7 linked regions of the Homo sapiens genome follow. The main gene of each other region encodes a partner of the protein of the gene in region 5 in a complex. Each region holds a gene or a part of one and is shown on either strand. Other genes may lie near its edges.

Region 1 (4,361 bases), on a different chromosome or scaffold from region 5:
TCTCGGCAGCAATGCTCTGCTATCCTGGTTGTTTTCTAAACCCTGGAGATGAATGGGGAAAGAAGAGGCTTTCTCTACAATCTCTTCTGTCCTCCAGCCCCATCTCCGTGGTACCTGGAGGTCAGTTCAAGGACCATTTGAACCACAAAGATTCAAGAACGGGTGGATTAATCAGAAGACAATGGCTGAATTGGCTGGGTGGGAAGAAGGGAGAGAAAGGCCAGAGATTAGAGATACCTGTAACTCGCCAGGTCAGGCTCAGAGAGGAACTCCCGGAGAAGCATCCCATCTGTCATGTAGCGGAGGACAGTTCGCTCTGATGTGCAGTCCTCAAAGCGGATGCTGTAGCCAACCTGGTCAAGGGAACCATTAGCAACCAAGTGTGGGCTGGTGTGCCCTGAAAGGAACTTGGGGAAAGGTGAAGTGGGGCAGCACCAAGACTTCTGCTGTAGGGACCTGAGGGAACTGTAGACTGAGTCACAGACCCCAGACTCTACCCCCCGGTTCCCTAGAAATCTCACCTCATTCCCAAGCTTCACACCCATCTCCCGGGCCACTCGGGCGGCCACACTCATGGCAGCCACTCTCCGGGGTTGGGTGCAGGCAATCTTCATACCCTTGTTTGTATAACCCTGAATGACAAAGAAAAAAGAAGAAGTTTGCCCTTTACTAAATATGCACCCTGGGACCAGGTACATTTCAGAGAAAGAAGTTGTAAAAACCAGGCAGGAGAAAAGGAGGAAAAGACAGATGCTGAAAACCAGAAAAGAAGGGCAAATAGATAGGATGACAGACCTAGGGCCCTCAAAGGGGGTCCTCACCCAGCTCTGGGTAATTAAGTTCATGACTCTGCTAGACTTGAGCTGGAAAAGAACAGATTAGCTGAGACAGAGCCAGCTAAGGTAAAAAAGCAGGAAGGCTGGGCACAGTGGCTCATGCCTGTAATCCTAGTACTTTGGGAGGCTGAGGTGGGAGGATGGCTTGAGCTCAGGAGTTCGAGACCAGCCTGGGCAACATAGTGTGACAAAAAAATTAAAAATTCAAAATTTTGACCAGGCACAGTGGCTCACACCTGCAATTCCAGCACTTTGGGAGGCCGAGGCAGACGGATCTCCTGAGGTTGGGAGTTCGAGACCAGCCTGGCCAAAATGGTGAAACCCCGTCTACTAAAAATACAAAAAATTAGCCGAGCATGGTGGTGCATGCCTGTATTTCCAGCTACTTGGGAGGCTGAGGCAGGAGAGTCGCTTGAACCTGGGAGACAGAGGTTGCAGTAAGCCAAGATCATGCCACCGCACTCCAGCCTGGGCAACAGAGCAAGACTCTGTCTCAAAAAAAAAAAAAAAAAAATTTCAGGCCAGGCACAGTGGCTAACACCTGTAACTCCAGCACTTTGGGAGGCTGAGGTGGGCAGATCACGAGGTCAGGAGATTGAGACCATCCTGGCCAACATGGTGAAACCCCATCTCTACTAAAAATACAAAAATTAGCTGGGTGTGGTGGTACGCACCTGTAGTCCCAGCTACTTAGGAGGCTGAGGCAGGAGAATCACTTGAACCCAGGAGGTGGAGGTTGCAGTGAGTCAAGATCGCGCCACTGCACTCCAGCCTGGTGACAGAGCAAGACTCCACCTCAAAAAAAAACAAAAAATGTTTAATATGGGCATGGTGGTGTGCACCTCCCAGATACTCAGGAGGCTGAGGTGGGATGATCTCTTGAGCCCAGGAGTCCCAGGTTGCAGTGAGTCATGATGGTGCCACATCACTCCAGCTTGGGCATCAGAGCAAGAGCCTGTCTCCAAAATAAGGCAGGGGCTAGGCACAGTGGCTCACACCTGTAATCCCAGCACTTTGGGAGGCTGAGGTGGCTGGATCACTTGAGGTCAGGAGTTCGAGAGCAGCCTGGCCAACATGGTGAAACCCCATCTCTACTAAAAAATTAGCCAGGTGTGGTGGCGCATGCCTGTAATTCCAGCTACTCTGAAGGCTGACGCAGGAGAATTCCTTGAACCCAGGAGTCAGAGGTTGCAGTAAGCCAAGATCGCACCACTGCACTCCAGCCTGGGTGACAGAGCAAGACTCCGTCTCCAAAAAAAAAAAAAAAAAACTAACAAAAAGGCAGGAAAATAGTCCTTTAACTCCTTGTTTTTTGGCCACGTTGGAGCATAGGGAGGTCCACATTTATACACGCCCCACTCCACCTATCCATCTACCCGTCCTTCCAAATGAAATGAATGCAGGAAGTGAGAACAGAAATGTGAAAAGGGTATGGTCTTTACTCTCAAGAATTTCACAATTTAGTGGAAAAGATAGGTAAGTGACTACTAAAAATATAATGTAAAAGGAGCTCTGACAGGAATGAGGACATTGATGCCAGGTGCCCTGGCAAGCTGAAGGGTGAGATGACTGTACCTCCTCAAAGAGATACTGCGGGATCTGGGTGGTCTTCCCTGAGCCTGTCTCGCCTTCAATGATGAGGACTTGGTGATTTGCAATAGCAGCCAGGAGCTCCTCTCGAAATGGGAACACCGGGAGGCTGCGGCGGACGGCCTGGATGGACTCTTTCTGCTGGGCCTGAGTTGAAGTGGGTGGAGCTGACGGCTCCTAAGGAAAGAGAAGGAGGTGTGAGCTAAATAGCTCGCTACGGGTCTTCCTCAGAAAGTCTCCCAGCTCCCCTCTTACCTCATCACCCTGGAGCTGAGTGGCCCGGACAAACTCAATGGTCTCCTCCTCCTCCAGCACCAGTTGATACTTGGGCTCCTGAGAGGCAGCATCTCGGGCCCCAAACTTCAGGGACGCTGCCCCAAGCCGCGCCTCCTCCCAGCGCCGCTGCTCCTCCCCAGGGGCTCCTGATTCCTCCTCCACTAGATCCACAGCTCGGGCTGGCTACAGAGAGAGGGGATATGTGAAGACTCAAAAACAGGATGTCCTCTCTGCCCTCTCCCCTCTTCCCATTACTACCCCCGCCCACTGCCCATTGGGAACGGCAAGGCAAGAAAGGGGATGACCCACGTGTTGCCCAATCCCCTGAAGCCTTCCCCACAACTTGTCTTGGGGACCAAGGCTGAAGCAGACGCCGCTTCACCTCACCTGTCCTCGGGTTTCCTTGGGCATGTGGTAGCGATTGGTGGCCTCCAGCTTCTCCTGCTCCCCAGCTGCCCGGTACTCCCGGGCGAGATCCCGCACTCGCCGCTTATATTTGAGCTCCTGCCGCTCGTGCCGGCTCAGCTCCACGTCCCCAAAAAGGAACTCCTCATCAGCCAGCTCCGCCTCCAGGTCCTCAAGCTTCTCTCGCTCCCGCTTAGCCAGGTACTCTCGGCGAGATTTCTTCCGCAGCTCAGGGACCTGAGTTGGGAAAGGACAGTCGAATCCTCATCTTGCTGGAGGAGCAACCCCTTTCTCTACCAATCCCTACAAGGGAAAAATCCCCTGACAGGCAGGCATGAGAACCTCAGGATGCACCCTCTACCTTCCCTCTGCAATGCACAACCAAAACAATGACATACTCAAATCTGGGCCTCTTTGGATGCTACATGCTGACCCCACATCGTATCTTCCTGCAGCAGAATCCAGCTGGAAAGTCCTCTTAGGCAGCATTATCATCTTTGTTAATATAGATGCACTAGGGAGATGTCTGCGTAGCTTATATTTTACTCTTGCCATTTTATTCAAATTAGTGGAAAGGGGGAAAATAAAAGGCTAATCCAGCATTTAGAAGCACAGGACTCAAACCGAAAACAATTCAGACAAAGATAGAAACCAGTGAGGGGGCCAACAGGAGGCAATCTTCAGCCCCAGTTAGATGTTCTTTGGTCTTAAACGGAATGACTGTAGTTTGAGGAAGGGAGAAAAACTGATTATAAAAAGTTAGGACTACAGCATCAGAGTGTTTCTGTAAGGCAAATGTAATCAGGGATGTTTGGCTTTCTGGTACTAACCTCTCTTCACCATGCTGTGTCTCACTTAGTTTCTACACATTTACCTTTGATACAAACTTTTCAGGACACATTATGGATGACAGCAGAAAACTGGCAATATCTATAAGGCCCTTTCCTGCCAGGAGTCCTCCCACTATGACATCATCCTCTCTGTGATCACAACTTCCTCTACTGCAAGGTCAAAGCCCCTCTGGTGGCTGGGTGGGCGTGGTGACTCACACCTGTAATCCCAGCACTTTGAAAGGCTGAGGTGGGTGGATCACCTAAGGTCAGGAGTTAGAGACCAGCCTGGCCAACATGGTGAAATCCCGTCTCTACTGAAAATACAAAAATTAGCTGGGCATGGTAGTGGGCACCTGTAATCCCAGCTACTCGGGAGGCTGAGGCAGGAGAATCATTTGAACCCGGGAGACGGAGGTTGCAG
Region 2 (4,361 bases), on a different chromosome or scaffold from region 5:
TATAAAACAGAAAGGAGAACAAGTTCCGACTTCCTGATGAACATGCTCTGCACAAGACAGAGAGAAAACAAGAAGCAAGGGCAGGGCCTTCCAGACATCAGGACACACAGGAACTCTACACGAGAACCCTGGAGAGGCAAAAGAGGAAACCCCACATGAAAGCAAGATGAGAAAGCCGGAGACTCAGGGAGGTCAGGTGGGTGACCTCAGCTCACACGCCATGTTGGGCACTGGTGCAGGGAGGGACAACCTGGACCATGAAGGGAAGGTTGAAGGATGGTCCCAGGGATTAAATGAGGTGATGCTGGCCGGGCGTGGGGGCTCATGCCTGTAATCCCAGCACTTTGGGAGGCCGAGGGTGGATCACCTGAGGTCAGGAGTTCAAGACCACCCTGGCCAACATGGCAAAACTCCATCTCTACTAAAAATACAAAAATTAGCTGGGCATGGTGGCACTCACCTGTAGTCCCAGCTACTTGGGAGGCTGAGGCAGGAGAATGGCTTGAACTTGGGAGGCGGAGGTTGCAATGAGCCCAGATCATGCCACTGCACTCCAGCCTGGTCAACAGGGCGAGACTCCATCTCAAAAACAAAACAAAACGAGGTGATGCTTCTGACAAGTGCTTAGCTGGCACCTGGCACCTGGTGGCTGGGCAGGCCCTCGGCAAGGGCAGCTCAAAATACAGCTACATCTGGGGACTCGCCCATGCTGAGCTGAAGCAGCCCAGGGTCAAAGTCTTCACAGCAGGCTGGGCGTGGTGGCTCACGCCTGTAATCCTAGCACTTTGAGAGGGCCGAGGCAGGCGGATCACAAGGTCAGGAAATCGAGACCATCCTGGCTAACACGGTGAAACCCTGTCTCTACTAAAAAAAAAAAAAAATACAAAAAAAATTAGCTGGGCGTGGTAGCGGGTGCCTGTAGTCCCAGCTGCTGGGAAGGCTGAGGCAGGAGAATGGCGTGAACCCGGGAGGCGGAGCTTGCAGTGAGTCGAGATCGCGCCACTGCACTCCAGCCTGGGCGACAGAGCGAAACTCCGTCTCAAAAAAAAAAAAAGAAAAAACTGTATCACAGGGTATTTTCAGAAGTCTCACCACCATTCTGGTCCCTTCTACCTTGTTCCCTGCCTCGTACTAACCCATTTCCTTATTACACTTTTGTGTCTTGCCAGCGTGAGTGCATACACAGAGGTGTGTTCATCTCCACCCTGCCTTCTCACACAAAGGGTAGCTTACTCTATGTACTGTCTGTCCTTCAGACTTGAAATTGAAGGAGCCATTTTCAAGACACTGAAGGAAAACCCAAGAACAAATAATCCCCTGTGAATAGTCCAGTGTACCAGTCCAGTGTACCAGTGTACCAGTGTACAGTCCAGTGTACCAGTGTCATAGAGGAACTGCCACTGGGGCTGGGTGCAGTGGCTCATGCCTGTAATCCTAGCACTTTGGGAGGCTGGGGTCGGAGGATCACTTGAGCCCAGGAGTTTGAGGCCAGAACAAGGGACTAGAGTCTGAGCCTGGTGCCAGCTGGGTTCCCAGGGCACAGAATTTGGATCCTGGATGACAGGGGCGAAGTCCTGGCTCCAGTTATCACTAACAGCGGGAGCCCCAGGCAGTGGACTTGCCCTCACTTGGTGGTGGGGGTTCCCGATATGTACAAAGGGGTTAGAACCATCGGCCTTGCCGTTCATGACCGATTCAGAGGCCTTGTGGACAGGCTGGTTCAGGTGGGCGTGTGGCGAGCACATGGTGTGCACTGGGCGGGCATCCAGGAGAGGCAGCTTTTATCCCAACAGCACCCAAACAGGAGCCCTGGACCCTGGGCAGAAAAGGCAGCCAGAAGCACAGAAAGGGTCAATAAACTAGTTCTACAATTGCTCTAAATGGGCAGATCCACAAGAGGCCACAAAAGAGGCCAGAGACTTGAAAACCCGTGCGTGTTCTCCGCGGTCGCTGTAGCCGGATCCTTCCTCATGGCTGTGGCGGTGCCGACGGCGGGCAACTGAGAGGAAGCCACAGGAGAAAGAGACCGCCACACAGAGACGACGGTGAGTGAGGCCAGGCCCCTGTTGGCAAGTGGTTGCTGCCACTGTAGTTCCACTGCCACCGCTGATGGGAACACTTGAGGCCAGACTGAAGCCCTGGCTGACATGGAGAGAGAGCAGGGGCTTCTCTAGGGGCCTGCAGGCCCCCAAGCATGGAAATAAAGGAAAATCTTGAGTCCCTTCATGAAATTCCAGGCACCTAGCTAGCCCTGAGAAGCAAGTGAGCAACTCGATAAGCAAGAAGGTAATAGTTAGCTTAAAACAATAGCCAAGGAAGTCAGAATCAGGGGATGTCTGGTTTCCCCATAGAAACTAAAGATAACTTTGTTTTTTTTTTTTTTTTGAGACAGTCTTGCTTTGTCGCCCATGCTGGAGTGCAGTGGCACGATCTTGGCTCACTGTAACCTCTGCCTGCCTCCTGGGTTCAAGCGATTCTCCTGCCTCAGCTTCCAGAGTAGCTGGGATTACAGGCTCCTGCCACCACACCCAGCTAGATTTTGTATTTTTAGTAGAGACGGGGTTTCACCATGTTGGCCAGGCTGGTCTTGAACTCCTGAGCTCAAGTGATCCACCCGCCTCAGCCTCCCAAAGTGCTGGGATTACAGGTGTGAGCCACCACACCCGGCCTAAAGATAACATCTTAATATCTGTCCTTGAGTTGCTTTTCAGAAATCTGGACCCTCAACAAACAATTCCCCTGGCACTGAGACCTCAGATAAGGGGAACTGAAAACTACACTCTGACCACTCTTTAGACTCCCTGAGGGGCCTGGAGGACATGCCCACAGGTTATAGCTAACATTCTTTTTTGCTGATGCCAAATTTGTAGACAAAGCTTCACCTCCTTAACCACTCACAAATCAGAAAATCTTTGAAGCCACCTATGATCTGTGCCCCATCCCTTGGAGACATCCTGCCTTCTTAGGCCAAACCAATATATAGCCTCCTGGTGTTGATTTAAAACTTTGTCTGTAACCTCTGCCTCCTGCCTTTGAACACCCTTAACCATAAGCCATCTGGGAATTTGGGTCTTAAGCATGAGCTGCCGGATTCTTCTTGCTTGTCGCCCCACAATAAAGGCCTCACTTTTGGCTGGGCACAGTGGCTCACGCCTGTAATCCCAGCACTTTGGGAGGCCGAGGCGGGCGGATCACCTGAGGTGAGGAGTTCGAGATCAGCCTGGCCAACATGTCGAAACCCCGTCTCTACTAAACATACAAAAATTAGCTGGGTGTGGTGGCGGGTGCTTGTAATCCCAGCTACTCAGGAGGCTGAGGCAGGAGAATTGCTTGAACCAGGTAGGCGGAGGTTGCAGTGAGACGAGATTGCACCATTGCACTCCAACCTGGGCAACGGAGTGAGAATCTGTCTCAAAAAAACCAAAACCAAAAACAAAAACAAAGCCTCACTTTCTCACTGCGATTTTTGTCAGTAATTGGCCTTAGTGTGCAGGGTGAGCGAATCCATTTGTTTGGATAGCATCCAGCTTCCAGCCCTCAGAGAGGAGGCAGAAGTGCTGGGCCAAAGAGCAGACCTCACTCAGAGCTGCCACAGCAAAGCCAGCATGGAAGGGTACCTGTGAGTGTGGTGGCTGCAGGGACAGACGGAAGGAAGCCTGCATTCTCATCCTGGCCTGCGACAGCCAGACGAGGGGCAGCTGTCTGCACCGCAGCTTCCTTATTGATAAAATGAGCAATTTGGAGTAAACTCCTTTCTCGCTTTCGCTCCACAATCCTAGGAATTGGAACTCCTCTAAGGGCAGGAAAAGGGCCAAGGGACTAGCTTGTAGACTCTGACTGCTCTGGGTTTAAGTCTCAGGTCTGGTACTCTTTATTTATTTTGAGACGGAGTTTCACTCTTGTTGCCCAGGCTGGAGTGCAATGGCGTGATCTTGGCTCACCTCAACCTCCACCTCCTCGGTTCAAGCGATTCTCCTGCCTCAGCCTCCTGAGTAGCTGGGATTACAGGCGCGTGCCACCGCACCCAGCTAATTGTATTTTTAGTAGAGATGGGGTTTCTCCATGTTGGTCAGGCTGGTCTCGAACTCCCGACCTCCGGTGATCTGCCCACTTCGGCCTCCCAAAGTGCTGGGATTACAAGCGTCAGCCACCATGCCCGGCCTAGGTCTGGTACTCTTTAAACCTTTGGCCAGCCCACAGAACCTCTCTAAGCCTCAGAGTCCTGATTGGAAAGAAGGCGGTGTAAGCACATCTACTTTAGTACTATGTCCAATGCACAAGATGCAAGCGCCTGGCATGCAGTGGGTGCTCCCCAAGTGTGAGCTAATGCCATCCGTGATGGGGGCACAACAGCACCGGGC
Region 3 (4,361 bases), on a different chromosome or scaffold from region 5:
AGGCGGGAGAATCGCTTGAACCCAGGAGGGGGAGGTTGCGATGAGCTGAGATCGCACCACTGCACTCCAGCACTCCAGCCTGGGCAACAGAGTGAGACACACACACACACACACACACACACACACACACAAAGATAGGAAATCAGAAAAGATTAAATTTCAGTTGGAAAGGGGCTGTGGTGGGCCAGGCGTGGTGGCTCATGCCTGTAATCCCAGCACTTTGGGAGGCTGAGGTGGGTGGATTGCTTGAGCTCGGGAGTACAGGACCATTCTGGGCAATGTGGTGAAACCCCATCTCTACAACAAATACAAAAATTAGCCGGGCATGGTGGCATGTGCCTGTAATCCCACCTACTGGGGAGGCTGAGGCAGAGGATCACTTGAGCTGGGGAAGCGGAGGTTTCAGTGAGCCGAGATCGCGCCACTACACTCCAGGCTGGGCGACAGAGTGAGACCTTGTCTCCAAAAAAAGAAAGAAAGAAAGAAAGAAAATACGAATACACTATATCTGTAGTTTCTATATTTCATTATCTAATTATGATAATAATTACATAATTATAAGTAATAGTTTTTAAATAAAGCATTAATGAGCCCCTGCTATGTGTCAAGGTCTGTAGGATGCTAATGACTTCCTGGGGATACAGAGACAGCAAGTCACAATCCTTGCCCTTAAAGGACTTATAGGGTTTAGGCAAAGCAGATATTTAAAGAGGTGAATAATATTATAGTAGGGTTATGTATTATTATAGCAATATTTACAGTATGCATTGGGAGCCCTGAAGAAGGTAGCACAAAGGGAGTGATAGTTGATGAATACAAGTTTTCCAAGCAGAGAATGGGATAGTAGGGGGGTGGGAGCATTTCAGGCAGAAGTAACAGCATGAATAAAGTGTGAAAAAGATCATGGAATGTTCAAAGAAAAATAAAAAGTTCAGGATAGCAAAATGTAGAGGTGGCAGAGGGAGATTAATCTAGACATTTCCTTTGGGAGCTGGATTGAGAAAGCCCTTGAATGCTAATTTGGTTTTTATCTTTTAGCCAGTGCGGAGCCATAGGTGGGTAGTGGGTTAATCAGATTTATTTTTTTAGAAAGATAGATGCCAAGAGGAGGATGAGTAGAAATAGAGCGAGGAAGGCCAGTTAAACTGTTGCAATAACCCCAGATGAGAAATACTGAGGGTCTATTTTAAATCTTTGGCAGTAGGAAGGTGAGACCAGATGTGAGAGAGATTTTTGAAGCAGTTTTGTTGACCACTTGGTATGGTGATGAAAGGCAAGTATTAGTTAAGGATGACATTGATGTTTCTACCTTGGGAGGCCAGGCAGATAGATGGTGATGCCAGTCACTATGTCCAGTGATGAATAAATAGGTCAAAATAAATATTTATTAATGACATTGTTAATAGTATAGTGTGAAAAGCATTCTCAGAAGCAGTGAAAAGACCCAGGATTGTCATTCTAGCTCTGTCATTAACTTGATAGATAATTTTAGGAAAGTAGCTTAACCTCTCTGAGCCTCAGTTCCTTCATTTTTATTTATTCATTAATTTATTTATTCATTTATTTTTAATTTTTTAATTTTTAGAAATGGCGTCTCACTATATTACTCAGGCTGGACTCTAATTCCCGGGCTCAAGCTATCCTCCCTCCTCAGCCTCCTGAGTAGCTGGAATTATAGGCATCAGACATTGCGCCTGGCTTGCACAATAATTTTTTAAAATGTAAGGGGGCCCTAAGACCAAAAAGTGTGAAAACCACTCATCTATAGAATAGAAATAATGTCAGCCCTTTGTACTTTAGCTTGGTTGTTATGGAATCAAAGAAGACTCTGTACAGTCACTTTAAAAAGCTCAAGATGTAAGATTGATCATTATTACTGTCCTTAATTTTGGTGACTTTTTTTTTTAAGATGGAACAGATTAAACGTGCAAACCGCCTTTATACTAATGACTCCATCTTCCTGAAGAAAACCCTCTACATCCCCATCCTGACAGAGCCCAGAGACCTGTTCAATGGTTTGGACTCTGAGGAAGAGAAAGATGGAGAGGAAAAAGTACACCCAAGTAACAGTGAAGTTTGGCCACACTCAACTGAGAGGAAGAAACAAGAGACAGGAGCAGGACGTGCCAATGGTGAAGTCCTCCCCACACCTGGCCAGGAAACCCCCACGCCCATCCATGACCTCTCTGCCTCTGATTTCCTTAAGAAGCTTGATTCACAGATCAGCCTGTCCAAGAAGGCTGCTGCTCAGAAGCTGAAAAAAGGGGAAAATGGGTGAGTCTTGAATGGTTCCTTATAAGTTCCTCCCTAGACTCCTCCATCATTCCTGTCTTACCTAACCACAAACACAAGTAAGTAAGGACAGTGCCAACAGAGGCAAGGTGATACCTTTCCCCCATGTGGCCCCAAGATAATGAGCAGAGGTGATGGCTGCTGGCCTGGGTAGAGGCAGTGGAAAACTGGGTTCTGTGTTCTTATTGGAGTCAGACAGTTAACTATTTTTTTTTTTTTTTGAGACGGGGTCTTGCTCTGTTGCCCAGGCTGGAGTGCAGTGGCGCGATCTTGGCTCACTGCAAGCTCCGCCTCCCAGGTTCACGCCATTCTCCTGCCTCAGCCTCCCGAGTAGCTGGGACTACAGGCGCCCGCCACCACGCCCGGCTAATATTTTGTATTTTTAGTAGAGGCGGGGTTTCACCATGTTAGCCAGGATGATCTCAATCTCCTGACCTCGTGATCCGCCAGCCTCGGCCTCCCAAAGTGCTGGAATTACAGGCGTGAGCCACAGCGGCCAGCTGACAGTTAACTGTTTTTACTGCTCTGATCATCCATGAAGGAGCATTAGGGTTAGGATTTATCTAGAGGGTACTGAGACTGTCTTGAAGCAACCAGCTTATGTATTAGAAGATAGCTTTCCATGTACCTCTCACTTGGCCCATTGTCAGGTTCTTCCCTTGATCTGTCACTCTTTCCCCCCTTTCCTCAATTGCAGGGTACCTGGGGAGGATGCAGGTCTCCACCTGAGCTCCCCTTGGATGCAGCAACGAGCAGTCCTAGGTCCTGTGCCGCTGACCCGTACCTCTCGGACCCGGACACTACGGGACCAGGAGGATGAAATCTTCAAACTCTGATGTCCCCAGAACTGACTGAGAGAAGCAAGATGTTGAAAGAGAAACTTCAGGGGGAGAGGAGCCTGAGGTGAGGCTCAAGAACATGGCTTATGAGCCTGCCTCCCTCCACTCCAGCCATCCTCCCCAGCCTCCTTGTCTGCCAAAAATTCCTTGGCCTGGGGCAGTTTTATTGGCAAGATTAGGGAATGGGAACTGGACCTTTCCCAGTTCTTGGGCTGAATCTAGAGTTGAGTCCTTTAGACTCAAAAGGCTCTTTTTATATCCTTGTTGCCTTTCCTATCCTTTTTACCTTTCCCTGGCCTTAGAACAGGGAAGCAGAGACTCCCCCTCAGCTTCTTCCTCATCTCCAACTATGTGACATAATTTATTTGGTGCTAATATTGAAGTAATATTTATTTGCTATATTTTATTTCTTCCCACTCTTAGCTGAAAAATGGAATTTCTATAGCCCTGGGGTGAGGAGAACCCGGGAACAGTGAGCCAGTGACTGCTGGTTCTCCACTTTCCCCACCTTGTTAGCCAAACATGTTATTGAGGATGAGGCAATCGGTGATATAGCCCACCACAGAGAATGGATGACTGTTGGCCTTTTCTCCAATCTCAAAGTGACAGATTTGGGCTGATTCTTTTTTTTTTTTTTTTTGGTACCCCATTCCTGTTGAATGGGCTCAGTCTTGACAAACCAATTCCCTGTAACTTTTTCACAATTCTTGACTCTGAGAAAAAGCAGCACTGTAGGGACCTGAACTCTCCATTCTACCAGTTCACCCTTCTGACCTGTTCTGCTCAGCCTGTGGTGAGGGGAACAGATGGAAGAAGGCTTTCCTTGGGGTTTGAAGAGGAAGCCAGTTGTGGGAGTCTCTTTGTTACACCCCCTCCCCTCCAGACCCTCTCTCTCTATGCCTTCCTCCTCACTGCATATTTATTTGCGATTTGTAGCACTGATCTATGGTACAGTTGTTTTGTTTCTTAAACAGAAGTAGGTAAGGGAACCTCAGTAATAATGGAAATCTGCCTCAGTCTCCTGTTTGGAAATGATGAGAGGTGAGATAAGTAATGTTTATATACCTCCTTTCTTCTGTGATGATTATAAGGTATACGAAGCTGGACAGATTAAACATTGAGCCCTGTGCATATTTTAGTAGTTTTATTTCCCCTATGAGAATCTCCCCTGCCCTAGCCCCTTCTTCCTGCACTCTGGAACAGAGCCTCTGGCATCTGTCCAAGCTCTGT
Region 4 (3,215 bases), on a different chromosome or scaffold from region 5:
AACACTACTATGTTCCCACACAGAAAGAACTTAGTATTACAAAGTTTATCAGCCGGGTGTGGTGGCTCACGCCTGTAATCCCAGCACTTTGGGAGGCTGAGGCAGACGGATCACGAGGTCAGGAGATCGAGACCATCCTGGCTAACACGGTGAAACCCCGTCTCTACTAAAACTACAAAAAATTAGCCAGGCGTGGTGGTGGGTGCCTGTAGTCCCAGCTACTCGGGAGGCTGAGGCAGGAGAATGGCATGAACCCGGGAGGTGGAGCTTGCAGTGGACTGAGATTGCACCACTACACTCCAGCCTGGGTGACAGAGCAAGACTACGTCTCAAAAAAAAAAAATTTATCTTCCTTTTCAAAAGTACTCCTATTGGCTGGGCGCAGTGGCTCACACCTGTAATCTCAGCACTTTGGAAGCCTGAGGCAGGCAGATCGCTTGAGGTCTGGCATTAGAGACCAGCCTGGCCAAAATGGTGAAACCCTGTCTCTACTAAAAATACAAAGATTAGCTGGGTGTGGTGGTGCATGCCTGTAATCCCAGCTACTCGGGAGGCTGAGGCACGAGAATTGCTTGAACCCGGGACACAGAGGTTGCAGTGAGCCAAGATCGCACCACTGTACTCCAGCCTTGATGAAGGAGTGAGACTGTCTCAAAAAAAAAGAAAAGAAAAAAAAACGAAAAGAAAGTACTCCTCTTTATTTCACAGATCCACAAGAATTTCACATTAATAAAGGCCAGTATCAGATATACTTTTAATGCCTTTAGAAAATGTCTGCTGTTGGTTTATTATGACAGAGATTCTTCTTGTTATGGAGTTATTTTCTAGGTTAAGTCTTCAGGAACAAGAACTGTATGTTATTAAATGTTATATGTATGATATCTATTATAGGTAATACATGAATTGTTTGCTGACTACATTAATCTATTTCAAAATACTAAGTTATGCTCACATAATTATGATAGATTAAAAGAAACTGATATTTCATTTTCTATTCCTTCACTTTGGGTTTTCTATCTATATTCATAATACATTTCTTTAAAAACTAATGTTCGGCCGGACGCGGTGGCTCACGCCTGTAATCCCAGCACTTTGGGAGGCCGAGGCGGGCGAATCACGAGGTCAGGAGATTCAGACCATCCTGGCTAACACAGTGAAACCCCGTCTCTACTAAAAGTACAAAACATTAGCCGGGCATAGTGGTGGGCACCTGTAGTCTCAGCTACTCAGGAGGCTGAGGCAGGAGAATGGCGTGAACCCGGGAGGCAGAGTTTGCAGTGAGCCGAGATTGCACCACTGCACTCCAGCCTGGGTGACAGAGCTAGACTCTGTCTCAAAAAAAAAAAAAGAAAAGAAAAGAAAAGAAAAGAAAAGAAAAAAAACTAAAGTTCATATGTAACATCTCATTAAATATCAGATGTGTACAAAATGCTGCAGTCCTAAGATCCCATCTGCCTTTTAGGGGGTGGTGAAGAGGGGTCAAGAGAAGCATGTTAAACTCTAGTCTGTTTTCTATTCATACTATAATGCTTCCTTTATAGCAAATGATGGTAATCAGTTCAAATAGCTTTTTCTTCACCCAATTTTAGCCCTTTCACATGGAAATGAAATAATGACCTCTAGTGGAATAAACTCAATCTAGTACCCACTGTGATTTATTATTACATTTAAACTGTTACTAGACTGGCTTCACACTGCAAACATCCTAGACACAAAAACTCTCAAAACAAATTTTTTTTTTTTTTTTGAAACAGTCTCGCTCTGTCACTCAGGCTGAAGTGCAGTGGTGTGATCTCAGCTCACTGCAACCTCTGCCTCCAGGGTTCAAGTGATTCTCCTGCCTAAGCCTCCTGAGTAACTGAGATTACAGGCACCCGCCACCACACCAAGCTAATTTTTGTATTTTCAGTAGACAGGGTTTCACCATGTTACCCAGGCTGGTCTCGAACTCCTGACCTCAAGTGATTCGCCCATCTCGGCCTCCCAAAGTGCTGAGGTCACAGGCATGAGCCACCATGCCAGGACAAAACGTAATTTTAGATCTCTTATGCTAAGTGGCCATTTTCATTTAAATTTTAAATTTAAGAGCCAGGTCTCACTAGGTTACCCAGGCTGCTTGCAATCATAGCACGCTACAGCTTCAAATTCCCAGGCTATAGCGATCCTCTTGCCTTAGCCTCCCCAGTAGCAGGGACTACAAGTGTGCACCACGGCACTAAGCTCCAATTTTTATTTGTTATCTGCTTCTGTCTATAAGCTCCACGAGGACAGGAGCCAACTGTTTATTTCCTACTCTTGCAGGGTTTTGTTTGACCCCTTCAACAAATCTCTCCACTTGCTGCATTACAGGGGTCTCTTGCCTTTTGCCTTCTACTTGGATACAAGCAATAGGAGCACCAACAGGTCAGAAGATGGAAAAGAATGAAATCCAGTTATTTATTCCCCCAGCTTATTAATTAATGAAAGGTATAGGCCGGGGACGCACGGTGGCTCACGCCTGTAATCCCAGCACATTGGGAGGCCTCGTGCAGATCATGAGGTCAGGAGAACGAGACCATCCTAACACAGTGAAACCCCGTCTCTACTAAAAAGACAAAAAATTAGCTGGGTGTGGTGGCAGGCACCTGTAGTCCCAGCTACTCGGGAGGCTGAGGCAGGAGAATGGCCTGAACCCGGGAGGCAGAGCTTGCAGTGAGCCAAGATCGCGCCACTGTACTCCAGCCTGGGCAACAGAGCAAGACTGTCTCCAGAAAAAAAAAAAAAAAAAAAAAAAAAACGTGTGGAGAAAAATTACATATTGGTTGTATCTTGTCAAGCCAACTCACCTTTAATATATTTACTATTAAAGAATTGTCTTAAGTCTGGCCAACATGGTGAAACCCCGTCTCTACTAAAAATACAAAAAAATTAGCTGGGTGTGGTGGCGCACGCTTATAATCCCAGCTACTCTGGAGGCTGAGGCACAATAATCTCTTGAACCCGGGACGCAGAGGTTGCAGTGAGCCAAGATCGCACCACTGCACTCCAGCCTGGGTGACACAGCAAGACTCTGTCTCAAAAGAAAGAAAGAAAAAATTGTCTTAATCATCATGAATTTCATACATCCCTTTTTGGATCATAGAACCTGTAATACAACTGGGTGACCACTGCCAATAATTTGTGGGGGAAAAAACGCTAATTACTATATAACTTCAATGACTTACAAAAAAAAATTA
Region 5 (4,361 bases):
CATGTGGCAACTCACTTGAGAGCAAAACTTAGCATATACTGACTTGATACTTAATGTGACTTGATACAGTGCAGAAATATTAATGTGTTTTGACTAGAGGATGTTACTCCAGACCCCAAAAGGGGGGATTACTTAATATGTAGTATAGGCACTGCAGTTTTCTAAAATCTACAAGATACTGAAATCAAAACACTTCTGGCTCCAAAAATTACAAATAAAGAGTTGCAGAGCTGTCCTCCCTTTTGCTTCATAGTCATTGCATATGCCAGGTGTGCTGACTCATAACCATTTGAATGACTAGATTGCCAGGTTCAAGTACAGGGCTAGAAGTTGTGCAGACAGTTCTGGACATTGTTTTCTGTAAGAAGTAAGTAATATAAAAGCATTTGACTGGTCTGCAACTCTGTGTGGAGAGTAGACAGCCCAAATTTTCAGACACTTTAAGACAGTAAGACACAGAGGAGTGAAAAAAAAAAAAGACATTTTAATGAACCCAGTGACACCATTATCTATACTGAAAACCTCACATTATAAATTGGGAGGTAGTATTACCCCCATTCATTTCCTGTATCATGAAGCTAGTCTATTTTAGGCTGTTTAAGTAACCAAATAAAGAGTTAAGTGATCCAATCATTTGGAAATACTATTAATTTTTTTACGCATAGGAAGATTCCCCAATGTGCTTCTTTTCAACAGAATGCAGGATCTATGAGAATAGAAATTTGTCTATTTTTGTTAGTTTCAACATTTCAATAAGCTGTCTCTTGATTTACAGTACAGTATTGATTTCTATTTAAGTTGGTTTTAAAGAAAAATTCTACATGTTGAACTTTTTAATGATTCATTTAAAAATAAATTATGATATTTATGGGGCAAATTCCCTTTATCCTGTCCCCTCTCTAGTTTTACTGTCTCATCCCTACACAGCTATTTTGTGATATGTAAGTTCACACTTGATGCCTCTAATTTTTTTTTCTTTTTTTTTTTTCTTGAGACAGAGTCTGACTGTCACCCAGGCTGGAGCGCAGTGGCATGATCTCAGCTCATCACAGCCTCCACCACCCAGGTTCAAGTGATTCTCATGCCTCAGCCTCCTCCTGAATAGCTGGGATTACAGGTGCGCACCACCATGCCCAGCTAATTTTGTGTATTTTTAGTAGAGATGGGGTTTCGCCATGTTGGCCAGGCTGGTCTCAAACTCCTGACCTCAAGTGATCTGCCCACCTGGGCCTCCCAAAGTGCTGGGATTCCAGGAGTGAGCCACCATGTCCAGCCTGATGTCTCTAATTCTTAACCTCTCCTACCCACTGTAATTCAGCTTTCCCTTCCCACTACTCCACAGCACTTACCAATGTTACACAGTAACTTTTTTTCTTGTTGCTAAATCCAGGGGCAGCTTCCTTCTTTTATGGGACATTGCTCTAGCATTTGGCACCTAATCCCCTTCTTGAAGTTCTCACTTGTCAACTTACAGGGACACCACCTTCATTTGTCCATCCCTTTAATATTTACTATGCCTGAGAGTTTAGTATTTGCTCATGAATTTATGTTTTGTTCATTGCTACATTCCCAACACTAGAGGCTCTCAATACATATTTGTTAAATGGATGAATGAATAGTCCTTATCTTTTCTTTCTCCATATTATCTGTGGAAGATCATCTCCATCCCCATAGCTTTAATTAACATGCGAAAACAACTTTTTACTCCAGCCAATCTTCTCTAGAGTTCCAAATCATGATGTCCAATTTGCTACAGGAAACCTCTAAGTGGATGTGCCAAAGGCCATCTGAACTAAAGAAATCCACAGTGGAACTAATTATTTCCTTCTCCCCATCTTAAACCAGCTCTTCTTCTAAGATATGACTTACAAAGCTTCCCAGGTGGCAATTTCCTTTTCCTTACTCCCTGTAAGTCACCAAATCCTACTGATTCTACCAAATCTGCCCATGTTTCCCCCTCATTCTGTCACTGTATATAGGAGGCTGGGGGAAGGTTCCATTTAGGCTAGGGCCATAATTGATATTTATATTCAGTGGCTGAGAAAAGCTGGGTGCAGTGGCATGTGCCTAGAGTCCCAGCCTGGGCAACATAGTGAGATCCCATCTCAAAACAATAGTAAAAGAAGATGAAAAAAGAAAAATGCTTACAGAGAAAATGAGGAAGTATGAAGCTAAGAGAAAAAGTACAGTCATGGTCTTTACTAAAGGCAGTGTCTATGTACGGTGGGGAGATATATACATTACACAACAGACAAGGCATTGAGGACTCTGTCCTTGGGTAAAGAAGAAATGTCTAAGTGCTACAACAATGTCATAAACAAGTGTTACTGGAAAAGAGGGTTTGGGACATACAGAAAGAAGTAGGTCTTGAAGCTGAGTCTTAAAGAACAAGTAGGAATTATCCATATCGAAAGGGGAAAAGGTCATTCAGGAAATACGATAAGCATGTGTAAAGACTCAGAGACAGAGAATTTGGGGATTCCAAGGTGTACATGAAAAACTGAACATGAATAAGATGGAACATGAGAGACTCATTAAGCTAAACTATGAAAGGCTCTGTATGAGTACACTGGATCCTCAAGGTTCTTGGTCACTGCTACATATCCAGAACCTAGGACAGTGTCTGCTACTTAATAAGTTCCAAGTCTAAAATTAAATAAAAAACGGGGAGTGTAGATTTCTGCTGATTACTCCAATTTCTGCCTACATAGAACTTCCTATAATGCCATTTTGTCAACTTGTTCATCAAGGAATACAACAGCAGCGTTGTCTCACCTATTAACTCCTACTTCTTGGAAATACTAAGATTTCCAAGTCTTAGTACATCAAGACAACACTATCAGATGCCACCCCCTATTAGTCTTCACTCCATGTTAACCTGTGGAACAGCTTGAAAACACTTCCTCATTGAGTGAGATGAAAAAAATACTAGTTCCTTTGCAGGCACTGCAAAAGGAAATCTGTCCCTGAAGGTGCAGTTCTTTTAACTTACAAAATCAACCCTAATTACTGAATATGCCATATGCCTTCATCACACATTCAAACCACTCTCTCCTGTCCCAAATCTGTTCCTCAGCTTGCCTAATTAAGTATATGGGTGAACACATTCTGCCAATTTTCAAGGCACAGCTTTGAAAGTCACCTGGTTATTTAATTAGAGAGCCACGTAGTAAACCACATTCTGGTTTAAAGAAAACTTGGAGGTGTTGGCCTCCACAGAGAAATTTAGCCCCTAGACATGCAAGCACTGCATTCTACTACAGAGGCTCCTGTAGCCAGGTCTAAAATAAAGCTATCCTGACAAACTATTTCAGGAAGGACTCACAGGGTAACTTTTCAGGTGGAAGTGCTGAACTCTGTCTAGCTCCACCCATTTATAAGTTAGGCTGAAAGACAGGTTAAACATGAGTCACCGAGTTCCTCCTCCCCACTAGCTAACCCATTCCACAGGAGTTAATATGTCCCAAGGCCAAGGCAGCCCATACCCCGTTTTTGGTATCTGTTCACTAGGAAAGACTTATTAACTTTATTATATAAAGGCTAGCTATAATCCATGCTTAAAGTTTGTACTTTGTTGTAGGTATTCAAATGTCTCTTCCAATGTCCACTTGGGAAATGTACATACTGAGAAAAAGTTTAAGTCTGGGAGTTTGCTGAAACTAGTATGCTCTCTGGCTTTATTGTTCCACCACCCTCCCATGCTCAGATAAACAGAAAAGTAGGGAAATTCGACAAGGGAGGCTTCAAAGTTATAAGAGGGATGCATGAATGTATTACCAATAGCCACTTCTTTCTCGGACTAGCTCCAGGCACCATGAACAAACCATGACCAAGTTAGGGATATGATGAGTAGTACAAAATTCCATTTAAATACAAGTGGACAATAAATTGAAAATATTATTCAAGTTAAGGCATGGGCATCTGAAATACAAAATGCATCACTGTGTTGTCTTTTGGGTGGTCTCAGGTACAAGCCACTGTAGGTCATTCAACAATGTGCAATCACTGGGAAGGAGAGTTAACTTCTTTTTTTCTTCTTCTTCTTTTTTTTTCTTGAGACAGAGGCTCACTTTATCGCCCAAGCTGGAGTGCAGTGGAGAGAGCTCAGCTCACTGCAACCTCCGCCTCCCAGGTTTAAGTGATTGTCGTGCCTCAGCCACCCGAGTAGCTGGGGCTACAAGCGCACAGCACCACACCCTGCTGATTTTTTTTGTATTTTTAGTAGAGACGGGGTTTCACCATGTTGGCCAGGCTGGTCTATCTCAAGTGATCCGCCCGCCTTGGCCTCCCAAAGTGCTGGGAATGCAGGCATGAGCCATCGCCGCCCCCGCCCCTCGCCCCCCTCCCCCCCAGGAGAGTTA
Region 6 (4,361 bases), on a different chromosome or scaffold from region 5:
ATTGTTTTAGTATCTAGCACAATAATTCTTAAACTTTTTAATCTCAGGACCCTTTTACAGTCTTTTTTTTTTTGAGATGGAGCCTCGCCCTGTCGCCCAGGCTGGAGTGCAGTGGCGCAGTCTCGGCTCACTGCAACCTCTGCCTCCTGGGTTCAAGCGATTCTCCTGCCCTAGCCTCCCGAGTAGCTGGGATTACCGGCGCCCGCTGCCACACCCAGCTAATTTTTTGTATCTTTAATAGAGACGGAGTTTCACCATGTTGCCAGGCTGGTCTCAAACTCCTGACCTCAGGTGACCCGCCCACTTCAGCCTCCCAAAGTGCTGGTATTACAGGCTTACAGGATTACAGGATTACAGGTGAGCCACCATGCCCAACCACTCTTATTTTTTTTTGAGGCAGAGTCTTGCTCTGTTGCTCAGGCTGGAGTGCAGTGGTGCAATCTCCACTTCCCGGGTTCAAGCAATTCTCATGCTTCAGTGGCCTGAGTAGCTGGGATTACAGGCATGTGTCACCATATCCAGCTAATTTTTGCATTTTTAGTAGAGACGAGGTTTTGCCACATTGACCAGGCTGGTCTTGAATTCTTGGGCTCATATGATTGTCTGCCTCGATTTCCCAAAGTGCTGGGATTACACGCTTGAGCCACCGTGCCTGGCCTACGCTCTTAAAAATTACTGATGACCTCAAAAAGCTTTTGTTGATGTGGATTATATATATTGATATTTACCATATTATAAATTAAAACTCAGACATTTAAAAAGTATTTATTCATTCAAAAAAAAATAAACTAATTATGTTAACATAATTACTGTATATTTAAATGAAAAATAATTACATTTTCCAAGTGAAAAAACAGAAGGATGGCATTGATTTACATTTTTGCAAATCTCATTAATGTCTGACTTAATAATAGGTAACTTGACTCTGTATTTGTCTGTTGTGATTTGTTCAGTTGAAGTATAGAAAGAAAATTTAGCCTCACACATAGGTAGTTAGAAAGAGAAGGCATATTATATTTCTTAATGTTACACAAAAACTCAACAAGTGCTGGTTTCTTAAAGGTGAGCTATGTGGAACCTGAAACCAGATCAAAGAACTTTCCTTACTGTTATATTAATTTTTTTAATACTTTGAGTGGATCTTTTACCCATGCATGATTTTATAACATCATGCATTGGTCATTTGTAAAATATTGGTTTGCTGAGTTGTTCAGACCTTCCAAATGTTGACATATTTCCACTATACAATATCAGAAAATCACTTTTGTTAACATCACTTCCGGTCTTATCACAAAACTCTTTAAATAATGGGAAGTTAAAGAGTTCACAGTTTTTCAGAATTCTAATTTACACTTGAAAGTTTAAATGTTATCACTGGCATTTCCATTGCTTGAGCTATTTCCATTTAATAGCTTAATTTCTCTGCTGAGATTTCCCATCTGTTCATTATGAGATATTTTCCTCTTCTTGAAAATATTTGTGATATGTAATTGGTGCTTTGAAGTCCTTCCTGTCTGTTAATTGCAACATTGGATTCACCACAGGATTGGTTTCTATATTGGCAGCTTTTTCTTCAGTGTGTATTACATTTTCCTGTTTATTTACCTGTCTGGTCACTTTTTTAAATTGTTACTGGACATCATGAATGATATACTGTAGAGACTTTGAGTTCTGTTACACTGTATTGTCAGTTGTTTTCCTTCAGGTAAAGCTCACTTTGTACAATAGCTTTTTATAGATTCCATCAGATTTTGTACCTAGAGGGTCTTCCATCTTTGCATACAGTTTAATTTCTTACTTTACAATCTAGATGCTTTTTGTTTCTTTTCCTTGCCCTGTTGCATTAGCTAGCACTTCAGTGCAGATGTTGAATAGAAGTAGTGAGAGCAGACATCTTTGCTTTGTTCCTAATCTCAGGAAGAAAACATTTAGTTTTTACAACACATTTATTAAATGTGTTGTAGCTGTATAGGTTTTTTGTAGATATCCTTTATGGAGTTAAAGTTCCCTTCTATTCCTGTTTTGCTGAGAGTTTTGTTTTCAGGAATGTATGTTGGATTTTGTTCAAAATATTTTCTAATTATCCTTTTGGTTTATTCTTTGCTCCATGGGTTATTTAGGAGTGCATTAATTCCAAATATTTGGACTTTTCTAGATATCTTACTGCTATTTACTTATAATTTAATTCCATTTTGGTCAGATAATATACTGTAATATTTTGATCTTTTGAAATTTGTTGGCCAGGCACAGTGGCTCATGCCTGTAATCCCAACATTTTGGGAGCCCAAGGCAGACGGATTGCTTGAGCCTAGGAGTTTGAGACCAGCCTGGGCAACATGGCAAAACCCTGTCTCTACAAAAAAATACAAAAATTAGTCGGGCATGGTGGCACACGCCTATAGTCCCAGCTACTGTGGAGGCTGAGGTGGGAGGATCACTGAGCCCAGGGAGGTCGAGGCTGCAATGTGCTGTGATTGCACCACTGCACTCCAGCCTGGATGACAGAGTGAGACCATGTATCAAAAAACAATAATAAAAATGAAATTTGTTAAGGTGTGTTTTATGGCCCAGTGGATAGTCTATCTTCTGAATGTTTCCTTTGCACTTGAAGAGAACGTATATTCTGTAGCTATATAAGGTAGTGTTTTATAAAAGTCAGTGAGGTCAAGGTGTTTAGATCTTAGATCGCCTGTATTCTGGGTTTTTTGTGTTTGTATTTTTCTATCAGTTACTATCAATTGTGGATTTTTTGTTTTAGCTGGTTTATTTTGTTTTTCAACTCTAAAATTTCCATTTAATAGCTTACATTTCTCTGCTGAGATTTCCCATCTGTTCATTATGAGACATTTTCCTCTTCTTGAAAATATTTATGATATGTAATTAGTGCTTTGAAGTCCTGTCTGCTAATTGCAACATTGGATTCACCACAGGATTGGTTTCTATTGACAGCTTTTTCTTCAGTGTGTATTACATTTTCCTGTTTATTTACCTGTCTGGTCACTTTTTAAAATTGTTACTACGCATCATGAATGATACACTGTAGAGACTTTGAGTTCTGTTACACTGTATTCCTCTTAAGTGTGTTAGTTTTTATTCTAGCAGGTAGTTAACATAGCTGAACTCCAAACTGTCTCCTTTGCAGTGGACGGCAGCTACAATCTTTGCTCAGTTCTTTTAGTTTCTAGCTGCCATTTTTTTAATTGGCCTGATGGTATTTTCTCTGCACATGTGTCATTTAACAGTTAGCCAAGGATTTGACTAGGGTTTGTATGTAGATTTTGAGGTTCATCTCTTTTGTAGTTCCTTCTCTTCCAAGATTTCCCCCCTAATTTCCTAGCTGTTCTGCCCACTTTGCACTAATTCCTCAAGCCAGTAAGCCTGTGGCTTTCTGCCTTCATGAGCCATGCTGTTTGGGAAGTTGCCCTCCAGCAAATCTCTTTTCACATATAGACTTCATCCAGTTCATACTTACTTTTGGTCACTCTTCCACACCTTCAAATACCTATTTTTTTTGTTTTGTCTAGGTTTTATAGTTGCTAACTGAGGATAGGTTAGTCTGTTCGGGTTACTCTGCAATGTCTAGAATCTGTCTCCCCACCTTATATGGGCCTAAGGCGTTGTCTTCTGTCCCTCGGGGTGCCGTCAAAATCCAACAGCCAGGTGTGGTGGCGTGTGTCTGTAGTACCAGCTATTTGGGAGGCTGAGGCAGGAAGATCGCTTGAACCCAGGAGTTTAAGTCCAGGCTAGGCAACATAGTGAGACCCCAACTCCAGAATAAAAAAATTTAAGGCTCTTCTTTCTGATATTGGCAGATATCTATAAGTTGACTGTAGTTCCTCATCTTGGCAGATATCTTTAGGGTAGCTGTGGTTACAGGCTAGCTTACTAGTTCCGTTTGCAGTTCACTGTATGTAGGCTTTTTGGTAGAAGGAGGATTTTTCAGAACACTCATTTGCCATACATACAGCCAGAAGTAGATCTTTTTATAGCACAACCCTACAGATGTTCCCTGCTACCGAGTTTTTGTTTTTTGTTTTTTAATTTTTGGACCCAAAACTTAGAATTCTCCCTGACCTAGTTTTTTTTTACTAGTATTTAATTTGTCTTCATTTTTCTCAGTTGCTTTTTTCCACTTCTTGTTCTGATTTTATCCTAGATTTCTTCTCTTATTTCCCTTTGTCACCCTTGCTTTCTTTTTGTTATTCATCTTTCATCATCTTTTCTAGTTTTGTCTCTTTTCGGCCTGCTGCAAGGGAATATTTCCGGAACAGATATATAGTATCTGTTGGAAAAACCCATAAGATAATTACCCAGCCTCTCTTAATTGAAAGAGAAACGGGGCCGGGTGCGGTGGCTCATGC
Region 7 (4,361 bases), on a different chromosome or scaffold from region 5:
TGGGCAAAATAAGCATGTTTTTCTTCAAAGCGGGCATACTTGATCCAGTTCTTAACATCAGGGTGCACGAGGACAAGTGCAAGGGAATTAAGGAAATCCCAGGCAAAACAGCATGGCTTAAAAAAATAGTAAGTAAGTAAACACCAAAACCATACCAAAGCCTGGAAACTCCAAAAATTCAAACTACAACTCTAGGGGAACAAAACACATACAAAAGTGTAGAATTAAACAGTGGCTTCTGTGAGAGCAGGGCCACGCCTGTTCATCTCTATTTTCCTCCAGTGCTTAGTTAAGATTTTAGTGGTGGGTATAAACTCGAGTTGGAAGCAAAGAAAAATCTCAACCCAGGTTACCAACCATGTGATCTTGGATAAGTCACTGAACTTAGACGTCTAAGTCTCAGCTGTTTCATTTGTAAACAGGGAAAAATAATGCCAGCCTCACTGGATTACTGCCAGCTTTAAATGAGAAAATGTATGTAAAGCCCTTAGCACAGTTTCTAGCCAAAAGAACATGGCACCGTAAGCGGTCAATAATGGTCTGGTCATTAAATAGCACCAATTATATTAAAATATGAATACTTGAACTAATAATTAAGAAAAAAACATGCTATAAAAAGAAAACTGTTAACTAGAGTCAAAGCAGAAAGTTTTGAATTGTCATTTTAATCTATCTTCCTTGAATAAATCATTAATTTCCAAAGTAGTAATATATTCCAATATGGCAAAGAAGAGCATCAGTTCTGAAGCTGCTCTACTAGGTTCACATTCTATTTCCATCAGCACCTGTGAGAACCCAGTCAAGCTACTTAATCTCTCATGCCTCAGCTCCCTCATCTGTAGGACAGAGAAGTTCCTACACTGCAAGGATGTTATGAGGATTAAACAACAATATCTGTAAAGTACTTAGAATACTGCCTGGCACGTAGCAAGTGCTATAAAAGCTTTCGTCAAACTAATAATATTAAAATTAGTAGACATAATTAAGATCTTAACATTGTCACCTCAACAGAGAAGAGTAAAAAAATAAAAAGATCTTAATACTGCATAATAAAGTTGACTCTCATTATTTCTGGTAGTTATGTTCTATTTAGTCAATGCGAACACTTAATTATTGAGTACTGAACCACTGCTCCTAGGAGAAACGTGTATATATACAATCTCACATTCATCATCATCTTAAATCCTAAAAAGAACTCATCCTGGCAGATTCTATCTTCATTATTTTGTAAGAAAAGTGGTTCAGAAATGTTAAGTGACTGGACTGAGGCTGCCCCACTGACAGGGATTCAAACTCCCCGACTGGCCCCAGAGCCACAGCTCCTTGCACTACATGGCACTGGCCCTTCCTGTCTCCAAGCTCTAGGCATGGTTATATGAGGTTAAGACCAGAAGGCAAGCCTCACCTTGTTGGACTTCATGCTCTGTGCATGTCCACAAATGACTGTGAAAGTGCCACAATTACTGATTTTGGGGGTTACAAATAAATTTTAGCAAATACGTGATTTTGCAAACATGGAATCTGCAAATAGTGAGGAATGACTGTACTTCAGTTTCTAAAAGTGCTTTCATGTGTATCATTTAATCTTCGCAACAGCCCAACAAAGGTGTTTTTATTCTTGTTTTTAAGAAGAGGACACCAACTCTCAAAGGAGTTAAATGACTCTCTGGAGCCACACAGCTAGTAAACAGTAAACCTTGGATGAACTCCAGTAAGGTAGTAATGACCAACACAAACCTTAGAAAAACAGGACTGGCAATGGCAGCCAGGACCTTAGTACAGTTAGTCCTCCAGCCATGGGTTCCATATCTGTGGATTCAACCAACCTGAGATAAAGTATTCGTGAGAAAAAAGTGCTTCTGTATTGAACATGTCGTTTTTTTGCTTATTATTCCTTAAAATATACAGAATAACAATTATTTATATAACATTTACATTGCATTAGGTATAAGTAATCTAGAGATTATTTGAATTATATGGGAGGCTATGCATAGGTTACATGCAAATACTACATCATTTTATATGAGGGACTTAAGCATCACCGATTTTGGTATCCCCTTGAGTTCCTGGAAACAATCCCCCAGGAATATCATTTTCCACAAGGAAACATTAGCTTTTAGCATTACAATAAAATAAACCCAAACTCTCACTAGAAAAGACTAGTTACCCAGAATACAAATTTTCATTCTGACCAATCTCTTTCCCTACAAAACATAGGGAAGCTGATAAACTGGCATTCTTGACTTTGAGCCTGACATTAATGACTGTGTGTCCTGATCATGAGACATCTCTACAGGAGCAGCAGCAGCATCCAGGACAATCATGGCACCATACAGATCTCGTCCAAAGGATATATCGCTCATAAATGGTGCGGGCCCGATCCACCTCTTTGTATCTCAGCTCAAAGTTGATGTAGGAGTGCCAGGCTTGCTCCTCAGGCTGCCACTCCATCCAGCGCTCAAACACCTGCCGGGCACCGGCAACGTTTCCCAACATTTCCTCCATGTACGTGTACTTGTACCTGTAACAAAATCACCCGAAAATATCTGCTGTGGTTTAGTTCTTCCATTGTTGAATGGGAAGAAGATTGAAGATTTTACCTTTCTTAAAGGTTAAATCAAACATGTTTTGTCATTTGTATGTAAATCTGAAAAAGGATGAACCATTGGAAAAAAAGATTTTTTTTTCTTAAAAGTTGCCTAGTTCAACAAGAAGCTTATGAATAAAAGATTGCAATCAAAATTTTAGTTTTGATTACATAGCTATAGAACATTACGATTATGACTTAATAGACTATGGGACATAACAGCATTTATGTCTGAAGAAAAAGTAGGATATCAAATTAAACTATCATCATGTAAATAAAATAAATACAGAAGATGTGGAACTTTGCTAGTCTATAAAAGGCTGTTTTGTTAGATCAGAAACTTACCAGAACTGATTAACTCGAGGCAGCGTTGTTATGGCCCGGTCCCAGATATTTCGAGCATGGTTGACTTGGCGATTCTTCATTTCCATTTCTGCGTATTTCAGCCAGAGTGTAATATTTCGGTAGTCTACATCTAAAGCACGCTCGTATATGGATCGAGCCCTTAAGAAGCAAGATTTGCAGGGCATCAAAAATAGAGCATTCAACACATGTAGCAGTTATTTCAAACTATCTGGAATGCACTGATGTTTTATTAGGTGTCTACCATGAGCCAAGTTCTGGGCATAAAAAAATGAAAAGATATAATGCTCTCAAGTACCTTACAAAGTCTTATAAAAAGACATGCATGCAATTATAATGCAATGTGATTTATGTTATAGTCAAGATCTGCACGGGAAACAGAGAGGAAGAAATGAAAATGTTTGGTGGAAAAGGCTAAGTAGTAGGTAATTGTAGAAATGAGAACTTGAGGAACGTTCCGATTTACCAGGAAACTAAGTTTGGTGAGGAGGGGGTGCTCATTCCAGGCAAGGAGAACAGTCAAGCCTCACGATAAGGAGACATGATATATTCAGGGAGTGGCACATACACAGGCACAGTGGGGGAAGGAGGTATGCGGGGAGAATGCAGAAAGCTAGACCACAGGAAGGGCCAGATTGCAATTTTTATTTTTTTTGGCCATTGGTTTTATTTTTTTTGGCCATTGTTTAGCTGAAATTTGTAAAAATCTCAATATATACAAAGCAAATGAAATTGTGCTTCTTTAGCTACAACTGACAAGATCTATCTCTAAAGCCTCTTCTGCCACCCTCCCCAGGACTATTCTACCCCAGTACTCCTGAGGCCCTCAAGGGAACCCTAGGGTTCCATGGAACCAAAGTTGAAAATTTCTACCCGAGGCACAATCTTTTACCTGTGCTTTAACTTTTTCTTCTTTTCTTTTTGGTATCTGTTAATCTATGAATCATTATATACAAAACTACACTCTCAGTAATTTTACCTTTGAATCTCCTTTAGGCTTTCTTCCCATTGTGCGTATTTTATCCAGTTACTAATCACAGTCCTGTTTTTTCTTATATTATCTTCAAAAGTCTGGAAGAAGGCAAAAAGGGTCAAGTCAAAAGACAAATGACTAAAAATGACAGCACCCTTGGTCTATTTTAAGTCTTGTACTAAAATGGTTATTCATTTTGTTCATATTTAAGAGAAATTACATCCTGGAATCCTTGAGGAATAAGAAACCCACTACAGAAGGTTACAGTCAACTAACTGATACTTTAAAATGGTCTATGCTTGTCCCTAATAAAAAATGTTTTTGACTATTACCTTTAAGTCCTCTGGTAATTCTCAGAATTTCATATATAACAGCATTAGTGCTTTAAAACAGTCCCACATTCTAGAGTGAAGAGGTCAAATCAGATCCCAAAGTCTT

What was found.
Region 1: CWC22 (region 5) and DHX16 share a complex: the UniProt entries of both Homo sapiens proteins name them as parts of the minor spliceosome.
Region 2: CWC22 (region 5) and ARMC7 share a complex: the UniProt entries of both Homo sapiens proteins name them as parts of the minor spliceosome.
Region 3: CWC22 (region 5) and TNFAIP8L2-SCNM1 share a complex: the UniProt entries of both Homo sapiens proteins name them as parts of the minor spliceosome.
Region 4: CWC22 (region 5) and SNRPD1 share a complex: the UniProt entries of both Homo sapiens proteins name them as parts of the minor spliceosome.
Region 6: CWC22 (region 5) and BUD13 share a complex: the UniProt entries of both Homo sapiens proteins name them as parts of the minor spliceosome.
Region 7: CWC22 (region 5) and CRNKL1 share a complex: the UniProt entries of both Homo sapiens proteins name them as parts of the minor spliceosome.

The regions. Positions count from the first base shown.
Region 1 is NC_000006.12:30,662,390-30,666,750, forward strand, and holds part of DHX16 (pre-mRNA-splicing factor ATP-dependent RNA helicase DHX16), read right to left. Parts: exon of another isoform or gene 3,506-4,361; intron 3,345-3,505; coding exon 3,090-3,344; intron 2,886-3,089; coding exon 2,682-2,885; intron 2,604-2,681; coding exon 2,412-2,603; intron 633-2,411; coding exon 522-632; intron 354-521; coding exon 238-353; intron 43-237; exon of another isoform or gene 1-42. UniProt on the Homo sapiens protein: Required for pre-mRNA splicing as a component of the spliceosome. Contributes to pre-mRNA splicing after spliceosome formation and prior to the first transesterification reaction.
Region 2 is NC_000017.11:75,116,147-75,120,507, reverse strand, and holds part of ARMC7 (armadillo repeat-containing protein 7), read right to left. Parts: intron 1-4,361. UniProt on the Homo sapiens protein: As a component of the minor spliceosome, involved in the splicing of U12-type introns in pre-mRNAs.
Region 3 is NC_000001.11:151,159,649-151,164,009, reverse strand, and holds part of TNFAIP8L2-SCNM1 (TNFAIP8L2-SCNM1 protein), read right to left. Parts: exon of another isoform or gene 3,129-4,361; coding exon of another isoform or gene 2,990-3,128; intron 2,275-2,989; coding exon of another isoform or gene 1,910-2,274; intron 1-1,909. Other genes in the region: LYSMD1 (lysM and putative peptidoglycan-binding domain-containing protein 1), read left to right, coding at 1,910-2,274, 2,990-3,128. UniProt on the Homo sapiens protein: As a component of the minor spliceosome, involved in the splicing of U12-type introns in pre-mRNAs. Plays a role in the regulation of primary cilia length and Hedgehog signaling.
Region 4 is NC_000018.10:21,630,989-21,634,203, reverse strand, and holds the end of SNRPD1 (small nuclear ribonucleoprotein Sm D1), read right to left. Parts: 3' UTR 684-3,215; downstream 1-683. UniProt on the Homo sapiens protein: Plays a role in pre-mRNA splicing as a core component of the spliceosomal U1, U2, U4 and U5 small nuclear ribonucleoproteins (snRNPs), the building blocks of the spliceosome.
Region 5 is NC_000002.12:180,000,355-180,004,715, forward strand, and holds part of CWC22 (pre-mRNA-splicing factor CWC22 homolog), read right to left. Parts: intron 1-4,361. UniProt on the Homo sapiens protein: Required for pre-mRNA splicing as component of the spliceosome. As a component of the minor spliceosome, involved in the splicing of U12-type introns in pre-mRNAs. Promotes exon-junction complex (EJC) assembly.
Region 6 is NC_000011.10:116,752,224-116,756,584, reverse strand, and holds part of BUD13 (BUD13 homolog), read left to right. Parts: intron 1-4,361. UniProt on the Homo sapiens protein: Involved in pre-mRNA splicing as component of the activated spliceosome. As a component of the minor spliceosome, involved in the splicing of U12-type introns in pre-mRNAs.
Region 7 is NC_000020.11:20,045,411-20,049,771, forward strand, and holds part of CRNKL1 (crooked neck-like protein 1), read right to left. Parts: intron 4,022-4,361; coding exon 3,930-4,021; intron 3,092-3,929; coding exon 2,933-3,091; intron 2,522-2,932; coding exon 2,355-2,521; intron 2,353-2,354; exon of another isoform or gene 1,738-2,352; intron 117-1,737; exon of another isoform or gene 77-116; coding exon 1-76. UniProt on the Homo sapiens protein: Involved in pre-mRNA splicing process. As a component of the minor spliceosome, involved in the splicing of U12-type introns in pre-mRNAs.